Regions from separate parts of the Homo sapiens genome. Here region 2 is linked to region 1. Evidence: fine-mapped expression QTL. Tissue or cell type: whole blood. Region 1 holds a variant in brackets; the other region holds the start of a gene. All regions are shown on one strand. Distances are from middle to middle.

Region 1 (2,500 bases):
TTGTTTTTAATTTGTAGAGATGGGGTTCACCATGTTGCCTAAAGTGGTCTCGAATTCCTCAGAGCAAGTGATCTGCCTGCCTTGGCCTCCCAAAGTGCTGGGATTACAGGAGTGAGCCACTGCGCCCAATCTCAAAACTTTGTTGATTATATGTTGGCAGATGCTTCAGGAGAAGTGATTAAGGTCTCCTAAATGATATACCTGTGACACTTTTCCACTTTAGTTTGTGGCGCGTGCACACACACACACACACACACACACACACAATGGTTGTATGGTGCAACAGCTTCCTTCCTGTGCTATGTTTTCAATCTCTTAGGCATCTGACACCTATGAGATGTCATTGTGTCATGCTTACTAAAGAAGATGGGGATAAGTTTTTGTGGTCGAAAGTGGTAGAGATAACAGCAGCAGATGGCTGTGAACCAGCCAAGGGTGTGCTTCCCACCTGCAGGCAGTTGGCGAAATCTGAGTCCCCACAGCAGTAGATCAGGAGCCTGCCTTCCAAAGATTGTTACACCAGTGATACTGAAGGTGTTTGAATGTAGTGCTTCTGTCATGAGCTTTCTCCAGCCATTCAACAGCAACAAGTTTTTATTGTTGTGCCTGTTATGTGCCAAGCCACAGCTCTGGGTCCTGAGGATGAATTAGTGAATAAAACAGACAAAAGAGCTGATCTACTTACTGGAGTTTACATTCTAGTGGGCAGAGTAGACAGACATACAATAAAGGAAATTAATATGTAAGAAATTCCCGAGGAAATAAATAGATCAGGACTAAGGGGATTTGTTGTGCCACATTGGGGAAATAATCCTTTAAATTAAAGTTGTTAGAGTAGGCCTCAATGTGAGGGTGACATTGAGCAAAGACCTGAAGGAGGCAAGGAAGAGTCAGTACAAGGCCCAAGATAGGAGCGCACCTGGTACAGTCCAAGAAAAGAGGAAGACCAGCGATGGTGGGGGTTAGTAGGAGATGAGGTCAGAAAAGTCGTGGGGGCGGGGTGGCCATTGTGCAAGGATTGTTGGCCTCTCCTCTCAAGGTCTGGCCTTAACTGTGTTGGGGCAGACAGTGGGTAGAGCAGGTTTCTTGGAAAGATCAGACCGTTATAGAGAAGATCAGGGTGAGGTGTCTAGAAGGCAGTCAGCCATAGGAGTTACTTGCATATAGGTCACATTAGTGTGTTTGGCTGATGAGTTTCTCCAGAGGGATTGCTTGTTATAGAGTGTGCATATTGTCACCTGCACATGAAAAGAATCATTTTTATTATGACCTAACCTCTGGTGTTTGGATATTTACCTCTACTGCCTTATATATTAGTACACACACATATATATCGTTTTTTAAAAACAGGCCTTGTGTGTGTGTGTGTGTGTGTGTGT[GTT/T]TATTTCTTATCGAGATGATTATAGATTCACACCGAATTGTATGAAATACTGAGAAGGTACTTCTGGACTTAGTCCAGTTTCTCCCAATGTTAACATTTTGCAAAACTATAGTTGACATTGACATATGCTACCTATTTTTTAAAATTTATTTCCCCAGTTTTGTTTGTACTTATTTGTGCGTGTGTATGTTTAGTTCTATACAATTTTGTCACCTGTGCAGGTTCATGTATCTACCACTGCAGTCGAGATGCTGAACAGTTCCAACAATTTTTATATATTTTTTATTTTTATTTTTTTGAGACAGAGTCTCGCTCTGTTGCCCAGGCTGGAACAGGCGCGATCTCGGCTCACTGCAAGCTCCGCCTCCCAGGTTCATGCCATTCTCCTGCCTCAGCCTCCCAAGTAGCTGGGACTACAGGCGCCTGCCACCACCATGCCTGGCAATTTTTTTTTTTTGTATTTTTAATAGAGACGGGGTTTCACCGTGTTAGTCAGGATGGTCTCAATCTCCTGACCTCATGATCCACCCGCCTCAGCCTCCCAAAGTGTTGGGATTACAGGTGTGAGCCACCGCACCCCGCCAACAATTTTTATAATTACACCCACCTCCCTCCTACACTCCTCCATTTTATTTATTTTTATTTTTGGTTTTGTTTGGTTTTTATTAGCATTTTAAAAATTGTGGTCAGATATTCACAATATAAAATTTACTATCTTAATCATTTTTAAGTATGTAATTCAGTACTGTCACAATTCACATTATTGTGCAGCCAGTCTCCGGAACATTTTCATCTTGCAAACCTTTATACCAATTAAGCAACAACTCCCTATTTTCCCCTCAACTCAGACGTAGGCAACCACCATTCTACTTTGTGTTTCTATGAATTTGACTATTCATAGATAGCTCATATAAGTGGAATCCTATGACATTTGTCTTTTTTCACTTACCATAATGTCTTTGAGGTTCATCCACATTGTAGTGTGCATCAGAACTACTTTCCTTTTTAAGGCTAAATAATATTCCATTGTATGGATATATACCACATTTTGTTCATCCATTCATCGGTCAAGGGACACTTGGGTTGCTTCCACCTCTTGGCTGTAGTGAATAGTACTGC
Region 2 (2,500 bases), 29 kb before region 1:
TCTGGGTTTTTGTCTTCACTAAGCAACACCTGCTGTGTATGCAGTGAAACGCCTGGTCCTTTGCTGGAGGCACACTCCCCTGCCTGGACCAGGATGGATTCCATTGCAGAGCCTTTTAATGACACAGTGGGGCCAGTTGGAGCACTGATCCTGGTCATTACTCCTGCACCCTGGCCTGCAGCCTTCCTCTCAGTGTCTTATTTGGGCTTGGTCCTTGAGCCGGCTGCCTCAACAGCAGGACCCCTGGTAAAACTGCAGCTTTCTGATCCACCTCCAGGGAGTCTGTCCCAGTGTCATTCCTGGGACTGGCCCAGCAGTCCCAGGATTTGTATCAGTGGATACTGAGGATTTGTTATCAGTGAAGTGGGAGAACCGCAGCATAGGTACTGCAGGGCGTTTCTGCAAGCCCACCAGCCTCCTCTTTACTTGCCTTTGTTGCCTCTTGTGCATTGCTCCTTTTTATAAACGTCCCAGCCAGGCACTGGCGCTCCGCCTATAATCCTAGCACTTTGGGAGGCCAAAGTGAGAGGGTCGCTTGAGGCCAAACTAGCCTGGGTAACTTAGCAAGACCCCATCTTTACAAAAAAAAAAAAAAAAAATTAAAAATTAGCCTGGTGAGGCTGTGCATGCTTTTGGTCCCAGCTGTTCGGAGTCCAGGAGTTTGAGGTTGCAGTAAGCCATGAACACGCCACGCCACTGCACTAAGCCTGGGTGACACAGCAAGACCCTGTCTCGAAAAATGAATAAGGTAAATGTTACATGTCTCCCGCACCCTTAGAATAGAACTACAGACATCCAAGCCACTCCTACCCCGCTCACCCCTGCTACACACCGCCTCCATACCTTTGACCGGCCTATGGCTGTACTCGGATTGCATTCTCAGCCTCCACTTCAAGCCTGCGTTCCCTGGGGAGGTCATTCAACCCTAGATCCACCATATGTCATGCCCAACCAATCTCAGTTACTTTGCGAGTTCACCTCCATCCTGAGTGGACGCTCAAGCAAGACTGCTGGAGCTGCAGATCTGGGAGGTTCGCTGCACCACCTTGATGCTCAGTATGTACTTTTGAAAATATACCGGATTGTTGAGATTTGAGAAAATCTCATAAAGCTGCTGAAAAGAACTGGCCAGAGCCGTGTGATTTGAGAGGCGGCTGACGTAAGGTAGCTGCGCGGCCCAGGATGCCCGCCTGGCCCGGGGTGAATGGCGCTGTCGTCGCGGTGGTCGCGTAGGCTTCGCGCCAGGTCTCGCCCCGGATTTACCCTGCGACCCCGGCCCTCCGCGCGCGCCGCAGCCGCCCTCGGTTGCTATTGGTTGCTCGTCCTGTTTGTCGGCGCTTCTCGAAGAAGGGGGCGAAGACGTGATTGAATGTGTCGGTGCTCATTAGTTCTTCTGTCAGTCGATCACGAGGTGCCGTTTTCTTCATTTTTCATTGGCTGGCGGACTGAGGGGCGGGCTTGGCGCGCCGGTCGCCCAGACATGGCGGACGGCAGCGGCTGGCAGGTGAGTGTGCTGGGTCGGAGCCGGGAACCACCGGGGTCTTCCGGAGGGAGGGAACGGGACTGGCTCGGGGCGTAGGGCGCGGCCGCCGGGCCCCGCTCAGGCGCCGCCTCTCGCCGCAGCCGCCGCGCCCCTGCGAGGCCTACCGCGCCGAGTGGAAGCTCTGCCGCAGCGCCAGGCACTTCCTACACCACTACTACGTCCACGGCGAGCGGCCGGCCTGCGAACAGTGGCAGCGCGACCTGGCCAGCTGCCGCGACTGGGAGGAGCGCCGGAACGCCGAGGCCCAGGTGCGCCGGGAGGGAGCGGGGCGGCGCTTCGGAGCGCCTTGCGGGGCCCAGCTTTCCCCACCCCTCCACGCCCCATGCCCCGCGACCTAGCCGGGGACTGACGGGGTCCCTATCCTCCTCACGCTTCCTTTCTTTTGAGAGATTGTGTAAATTAGCATATCAACAGGACTTTCAGAGGGCGTGAAAGACAAAGGAGGAGACCAGCGAGGAGGGGGTGTAGAGTGGTTTAGAGAGGGAAGAGGGCAGCCGTCCGGTGTTAGGGTCATCAGCTGGCCTACGCAGGAGGTGATGTTGCTGAGTCCTGAGTGACCAGGAGCCAGCCTTCATCCAGCCCCGGTAGACACCGCTGAGAAACAGATAAGGCCTGGGTTCCTGAAGCAGAGGGTAGGTGGATGGTTGGAGAGCGGTATACCAGGGACCTGGCGGGCCTTTTGATACGGAGTTTAGAGTTTAGTCTAAAGTGTGCTGGGAGGCATAATTCGATTTATATCTTTAAAAGATCAGTCTGTTAGCAAAGTGTGGTGGCGTGCACCTGTGGTCCCAGCTACTTGGGAGGGTGAGGCGGGAGGATCGCCTAAGCCCAGGAGTTCAAAGCTGCAGTGAGCTATGGTCACACCACTGCACACCAGCCTGGATAACAGAGGGAGACCTGTCTCAGGGGGGAAAAAAAAGAGAGAGGGTAAAAGAAGTTCAATCTGTTTGCTAGGGT

What was found. PIP is the estimated chance that this variant, and not a neighbour inherited with it, causes the effect.
Region 2: C22orf39 starts here. The variant in region 1 is fine-mapped to the expression of C22orf39 in whole blood (INTERVAL, PIP above 0.99).

The regions. Positions count from the first base shown.
Region 1 is chr22:19,417,807-19,420,306 of GRCh38, reverse strand. The region is part of intron 1 of HIRA (histone cell cycle regulator); the gene reads left to right. Among named protein-coding and RNA genes, the nearest start is that of HIRA, 13 kb to the left of the region's middle. The variant GTT/T (reference allele first, on the strand shown) is at 1,380.
Region 2 is chr22:19,446,669-19,449,168 of GRCh38, reverse strand. It overlaps C22orf39 (chromosome 22 open reading frame 39), which reads left to right and starts at 1,458. Exons shown (of 3, transcript NM_173793.5): 1 at 1,458-1,504; 2 at 1,624-1,791. The coding sequence starts at 1,481. UFD1-AS1 (UFD1 antisense RNA 1) reads right to left here and starts at 1,735. Exons shown (of 2, transcript NR_186687.1): 1 at 844-1,735. RefSeq lists a silencer at 1,513-1,912 and an enhancer at 1,360-2,262.